Linked DNA regions of Homo sapiens. The protein of the gene in region 1 purifies or fractionates together with the protein of each later gene. This does not show direct contact. Each region holds a gene or a part of one and is shown on either strand. Other genes may lie near its edges.

The links.
Region 2: the proteins of MBLAC1 (region 1) and H1-7 purify together in Homo sapiens (affinity purification with mass spectrometry; 2 studies listed by BioGRID and IntAct, with this or other methods). This does not show direct contact.

Annotation. Positions count from the first base shown.
Region 1 is NC_000007.14:100,125,381-100,129,054, forward strand, and holds MBLAC1 (metallo-beta-lactamase domain-containing protein 1), read left to right. Parts: upstream 1-1,586; 5' UTR 1,587-1,684; exon of another isoform or gene 1,685-1,791; intron 1,792-1,987; 5' UTR 1,988-2,015; coding exon 2,016-2,816; 3' UTR 2,817-3,115; downstream 3,116-3,674. UniProt on the Homo sapiens protein: Endoribonuclease that catalyzes the hydrolysis of histone-coding pre-mRNA 3'-end. Involved in histone pre-mRNA processing during the S-phase of the cell cycle, which is required for entering/progressing through S-phase.
Region 2 is NC_000012.12:48,327,348-48,330,849, forward strand, and holds H1-7 (testis-specific H1 histone), read left to right. Parts: upstream 1-1,632; 5' UTR 1,633-1,944; coding exon 1,945-2,712; 3' UTR 2,713-2,932; downstream 2,933-3,502. UniProt on the Homo sapiens protein: Essential for normal spermatogenesis and male fertility. Required for proper cell restructuring and DNA condensation during the elongation phase of spermiogenesis.

The DNA.
Region 1 (3,674 bases):
TGCTGATAATTTAGGTGGGATAGATACTTGGTCTACTTAAGCTCAATGTAACCCAGAGCCCACCATATAGTTTTATAGGTGCTCAATTTTCTATATCGCTATTAAACTTTTTTCTTTTTTTCTAAAAACTAGCTGGGCCCAAAGTTTCAAACAACAGCCGGGCACACATAGCTAGCTGGTCGATGAGGCAGCACCCAGAATGGCCGCTGTCTTGTTAAGCTCAAGCTCCAGCCTGAGCAACATAGTGAAACCCCAATTCTACACACACACACACACACAAAGAAGACTGCAGGGCTGGTGGTGCAGCGCCTGTAGTCCCAGTTACTGCAGAGGTGGAGATGGGAGGATCACTTGAGTCCAAAAGGTCAAGACCAGCCTGGAGGCTGGGCGCAGTGACTCACACCTGTAATCCTAGCACTTTGGGAGGCCGAGGCAGGCGGATCACCTGAGTGTAGGAGTTCGAGAGCAGCCTGGCCAACATGGAGAAACCTCGTCTCTACCAAAAATACAAAAATTAGCCGGGCGGCTGGGCGCGGTGACTCACGCCTGTAATCCCAGCACTTTGGGAGGCCAAGGCGGGTGGATAACAAGATTAGGAGATCGAGACCATCCTGGCTAATACGGTGAAAGCCCGTCTCTACTAAAAATACAAAAAATTAGCCGGGTGTGGTGGCAGGCGCCTGCAGTCCCAGCTACTCGGGAGGCTGAGGCAGAAGAATGGCGGGAACCCGGGAGGCGGAGCTGGCAGTGAGCCAAGATCGTGCCACTGCACTCCAGCCTGGGTGATAGAGCGAGACTCCGTCTCAAAAAAAAAAGCCACGCATGGTGGTGGGCGCCTGTAATCCCAGTTACTCGGGAGGCTGAGACAGGAGAATCGCTTGAACCCAGGAGGCGGAGGTTGCAGTGAGCTGAGATCACGCCACTGCACTCTAGCCTGGGCGACAGAACAAGACTCCGTCTCAAAAAAAACCAAAAAAAATTTAGAGGGGCGTGCACGCCTGTATTCCCAGCACTCCAGGAGGCTGAAGCAGGAGGATCGCTAGAACCAGGGGTTCAAGACTGGGGCGAGCTATGATGGTGCCCCTGCACTCTAGCCTGGGCGACAGGGCGAGACTGTCTCAAAAGAAAAAAAGACCAGGCGCGGTGGCTCACACCTGTAATCCTAGCACTTCAGGAGACCAAGACTGGAGGATCGCTGGAGCCCAGGAGTTCCAGACCAGTCCTGGCAACAGAACTAGACCGTGTCTCCAAAAAAAAAGAGAAAGAAAAAATAGAAACCTTAGCTGGGCTTGGTGGTGCGCATCTGTGGTCCCAGATACTCGGGACGCTGAGGCGGGAGGATCACATGAGCCCAGGAGGTTGAGGCTGCAGTGAGGTATGATCGCGCCACTGCACTCCTGCCTGGGCAACTGAGCATGAACCCTCCTCAAAGCTAATGGCGCTTCAAAATTCTGCAGTGCAAAGAAGTTGCTGGGGTTGCGGAGCGGAGAACCGCCAGGAGGCTGGAGCCCAGCCAGGCAGCCTCCTCGGGCACACGGTGAAGGCGCCGGAACTACAGCTACCTCCGCGGCGCCGCTTCGGCCGCCATATCTGGGTACACGGGAACCGCAGAGGACAAACTCTCACCCGCGTTTTCGATTTCTGCGCTTTCTTCGAGTGAGGCAAGACCTAGCAGAGGCCCAAGGTAGAGCGCGGCTAGGATTCGATGGAGGGAAACATAAAGGATAGCCTTTGGAGGGTGACGGGCAAGGACGTACGTACCGCGAACGGAATGGGGCGGGGGCCGAGGACGCCGAGGGAGGGGCGGGCCCAAGTGTGAAGGGAGTCTGGGCGATACCATTTTGGGCAGGGGTTGAGGGTGATACCAACTTAATGGGAGGCGGGTGGCAGAGAACCGAGGCTTAGGGGCAGTGGCGGGGCCGAGCGCGGGTGGGGGATCGCGGAGGGACAGGACGGTCGCCCACTGCTCCATTTCCTTTCTCCCCAGCCCGTCCCTCCCTGCCAGGAGCAGCCTCATGCGGACCGAGCCGCTGTGCGGGGCATCCCCTCTGCTGGTGCCCGGCGACCCCTACTCTGTGGTGGTTCTGCTGCAGGGCTACGCGGAGCCAGAGGGTGTGGGCGATGCCGTGCGCGCCGACGGCTCCGTGACCCTGGTCCTACCCCAGACCCGGGGCCCGGCCTCCAGCCACCGAGAGTCCCCGCGCGGGAGTGGCGGCGCAGAGGCCGCCCTGGAGGAGGCGGCCCGTGGCCCCATCCTGGTGGACACCGGGGGCCCCTGGGCTCGGGAGGCGCTGCTGGGGGCGCTGGCGGGGCAGGGCGTGGCCCCGGGAGACGTGACGCTAGTGGTGGGGACCCACGGGCACTCGGATCACATCGGGAACTTGGGGCTGTTCCCAGGCGCGGCTCTGCTGGTCTCGCACGACTTCTGCCTTCCCGGAGGCCGCTACCTGCCCCACGGGCTGGGTGAGGGGCAGCCCCTGCGCCTGGGCCCGGGGCTCGAGGTGTGGGCCACGCCGGGCCACGGGGGCCAGCGCGACGTGAGCGTGGTGGTGGCCGGCACGGCTCTGGGCACCGTGGTGGTGGCGGGAGATGTGTTTGAGCGAGATGGGGACGAGGATTCGTGGCAGGCACTGAGTGAAGACCCCGCAGCCCAGGAGCGGAGCCGGAAGAGGGTCCTGGTCGTTGCCGACGTGGTCGTACCTGGTCACGGGCCCCCCTTTCGAGTGTTAAGGGAAGCCTCGCAGCCCGAGACGGAGGGTGGAGGGAACAGCCAGCAGGAGCCGGTGGTCGGAGACGAGGAGCCCGCCCTGCACTAATCAGCCTCGAGAGGGACTGCACTCTTGTCAGGGAAGCCCTAACAGCGAAGAGCTGCTGGAGACAGAGTCAGAGCAGTCAAGGGTGGGAGCTTCCAGCCCTTCCAGGAGGCCAGTTTTCTAGTGAAGACAGAGTGCACCTGACACTGCCATCACATCGTCAGTATCACTGCCTGTCTCTGCCACCAAACTAAGATCAAAGGAGGGGCTCAGCTCCCTGTGCATTCTCCCTGGGCCTCAGTAAAATGGGAGAAGGTTCGTGGGAGGGGCCTCCAAAATAAAAATGGAAACTGCATTGAAAATCATAGTGCCCTAGTGTAAATGTGAAGCATTGACAATGATAATCGTGCAAACATGGTAATCTACAACTACAGCAGAGGCATACTTTGGCCAATTGCCCCTTTCTTATAGGATGGAGGTTGCTGAGAGAAGGTACAGGGCATAAAGATGACCCCTTAGTCACCTGACTTATGTATTTGTTCATATTTTTTTGTCACACAGGCTAGAGTGCAGTTGTGCAGTCATAGCTCACTGCAGCCTCCAGCTTAAGCCATCCACCTGCCTCAGCCTCCCAAGTAGCTGGGATGACAGGCAAGTGCCACTATGCCCCACTAATTTTTTTTTTTTTTTGAAACACGGTTTCACTCTGTCCCCACAGGCTGCAATGCAATAGCACAATCTTGTACTGCAGACTGCACTGCAACCTCTGCCTCCTGGGTTCAATTGGTTCTTGTGCCTCAGCCTTCCCAGCAGCTGGGATTACAGGCTCACACTACCATGTCCAGCTAATTTTTATATTTTTAGTAGAGAAAGGGTCTTACCATGTTGGCCACACTGGTCTCAAACTCCTGGCCTCAAGTG
Region 2 (3,502 bases), on another chromosome or scaffold:
AGCCTGGTGAAACCCCATCTCCACTAAAAATACTAAGATTAGCTGGGCATGGTAGCAGGAACCTGTAATCCTAGCTACTTGGGAGGCTGAGGCACGAGAATCACTTGAACCCAGGAGGCGGAGGTTGCAGTGAGCCGAGATTGCACCACTGCACTCCAGCCTGGGCAACAGAGTGAGACTTTGTCTCAAAAAAAAAAAAAAAAAATTAGCTGGATGTGGTGGCACATGCTTGTAATCCCAGCTTCTTGGGAGGGTGAGACACAGGAATTGCTTGAACCCAGGAGGTGGAGGTTACAGTGAGCCAAGATTGTGCCATTACATAGCCTGGGCTGAGCAAGACTCTGTCTCAAAAAAAAAAAAAAAAAGCACTGGTCTAAGCTACTTCCTGGAGCTTTGATTTTTAAAAGAAACTGTCACTGTCTAGCCTGTGACTGATGAATGTATGTGATTGCCCTCTGGAAAAGTATGATATGCTTGGCAATTTGAAGTATTCTTAGAATAATACTTTAAATTATTCCCAACTAAACTGTGTCCAAAATAGGTCCTTGATAAGCTAATCCTTACTTGGCCCCCTTCATTTCCAACCCTTTGAAATTCACTCTGCTCCTTTCTCCTGATCTTCTGGAAGTTTCTTTCTGAATCTAGAGAAACTCTCCTCACCAGAGAGGAATGATGTAAGCAGGCTCAATTAAATGCCCGCTGTGTATAATGAAGCATATTGTTAGGTGCAGCATGGGACATAGAAGTTCAAAGACTATAGCTCTTGAGGATATCTTTATTTAGTTGGAAATACAAGACAGAAACATTCAAAGTAAAGTAAATTTATTCCTTATATTTAGGTAGCCCTTGTTCATCTACCTCTTCTGAAATTTTGCAATAATTCTGTGATGTTGGTAGGAAGGGAATGTGATGTTAGATAAGAAGTCAGATGGCCGGCACATCCATCTGACAGCCACACCACTGATATTAAGGGATTTGTTAATGTCATATGGCTCCTAAAGAGCTAGGATATGCATCCATATCTTCCAGCTCCAAGTACGAGTTTTTTTCTTTTTAAAAAATATTGTGTCACATTATACCCTCTAATGCCAAATTCATTTAAAATAAAGAAAAAGCCATATAAGATTGCAGAAGTAATTTTGGTGGTTGTGGTAGTTAAGAGGCAAGAAATCATTTGAAAGAGTTTGGGGAGTCTTCAGTGAAGAAGGATAATGTAGCAGTACCTTGAAAGATGAGCAGGACTTATCTGGGCAGACAAAGAGGATGAGAAATCCAAGAGAGGGGATGAGATGGAAAAAAACACAGTATGTTCAAAGAATAATGATTAGACCAGTATCCTCAGGCGATGTGAAATCTAGATTGTTTCAGTACAGTTGAATGCGTCATCTAAATTTCCCAGGTGTGGGAATCAGTGTTTAGGGTAGAGGGATCACACAATTGGTTCCTTTTTTACTTCATGCTCTTGCACAGAATCCACTGTGTAGAATTAGGGAGACATGACTTCAGATACCTGACTGGTGGAATTAAAGGTGGGAGTTTCTAATCTGGGTTGTGTTTCATGGACTACCCCGTGTACTTTCTACAGGCAGTGTGTTGCTTGTTTTGGATAGTTGGGAGCAGCTTCGCTCACCTTAAGGAACTGTGGGTAGATGGTTTGCAGGACCACATACACACACAAAATAGCCGACTAAAGAAAGCGGTGGAGATCGAGATCAGTAAGTTTGATTTGGGAACAAAACCCTGGAGACTCTATAGGTAGGTGACTGTTGGGGGTGGACAGGCGCTGAAGACTTGGATTGGTTTAGACCTAGAAGGAAGTGGCATTTGATTGGTTATTATAAGTGAAAAGGGCCCCTCCCCGGGTGAGATATGCCAGCCCCATAATTAGGACCTGAAAATCTCTGCCAGGCCTGCCTTTGTGACGTGGCCCAGTCTACCTCAGCTATGGAACAGGCCTTGACTGGTGAGGCCCAAAGCCGGTGGCCCCGCAGAGGCGGGAGTGGGGCCATGGCTGAGGCGCCTGGGCCCAGTGGCGAATCCCGAGGACACTCAGCCACTCAGCTGCCAGCGGAAAAAACTGTCGGGGGACCATCGAGGGGCTGCTCAAGCTCCGTGCTCAGAGTGTCCCAGTTGGTGCTCCAGGCCATCTCCACTCACAAAGGGCTGACTCTGGCAGCTCTCAAGAAGGAGCTCCGAAACGCCGGCTACGAAGTGCGCAGGAAGAGCGGCCGCCACGAAGCGCCCAGGGGGCAGGCCAAGGCCACGCTCCTCCGGGTCAGCGGCAGCGACGCCGCCGGCTACTTCAGGGTCTGGAAGGTTCCCAAGCCCAGGAGAAAGCCGGGACGCGCGAGGCAAGAGGAGGGCACGCGCGCTCCCTGGAGGACCCCAGCCGCGCCCCGGAGCTCCCGGAGGCGCCGCCAGCCCCTTCGCAAGGCGGCCAGGAAGGCCAGAGAAGTGTGGAGACGGAACGCGAGGGCGAAAGCCAAGGCCAATGCCAGGGCGAGGAGGACCAGGAGGGCAAGGCCGAGAGCCAAGGAGCCGCCGTGTGCCAGAGCCAAGGAGGAAGCGGGAGCGACAGCGGCAGACGAGGGGCGAGGACAGGCCGTGAAGGAAGACACCACGCCGAGGTCAGGGAAGGACAAGAGGCGAAGCTCCAAGCCCAGGGAAGAGAAGCAGGAGCCCAAGAAGCCCGCACAGCGGACCATCCAGTAGCCAACGCGGGCTAAAACCGACCGGACATCTAGCGGGCAGGGGAAGACTCCACTAAAGACTTCCACAAAGACCTCCCCTAAATCTGAAGGTCTTCCTGATCCAGTTGGGAATGCATCTTGTGGGAGCAGCTTCACTCCCACCACGGACCAATGCCTTTCCCCCATAGGCCCCAAGAAGAGCGGCTGTCACACTCATTGAAATGAAATGGACCTCTAGACCACCTTGTGTCTGTTTCCTCTTTGCCGCACCTGGAAGGGAAGGGGTGGGTGGTGGTAACGTTCAGTGAAGACAGTAAATTAGCTGAGATTCTGTTCCTGCTGCAGAACTCAGAGAAATGTCTTTTAGAAGGAGAGAAAACAGAGGAAAACCAGCAGCTTAACAAGTGTTGAAGTATTGTTAGATACTCTAGCAAATCCAAATTGAGTTCTGGGGAGGAAGGCATGTTGGGAAAAGAGTAGACAGTCTTTAAGTTGAGTGGTCCCACTGATTCAAAGTGTTCTTACCTGAAATTCCTTTTAGGACAAAGTCCTCCCAAAATTGATTATAATGAGTTTGTAGTTTTTGCCTTGAATTGATAACCTATTTTAATTTAAAAGATATTCTTATGTCAATCCTCAGTTAAATAAGTGTATGAAAGCATCCAGCATAGGGCCTGGCATAGGATAGGTACTCATCACTGAGAGTTAAATATGTGTATAATTAATTCCCGATGGAGTGGTAATGTGCTATAGCAGAAAACTGCTGGACCACTATGTAGTAAGACCAAGATTCTAGTCAAAGTTCTGCTAGT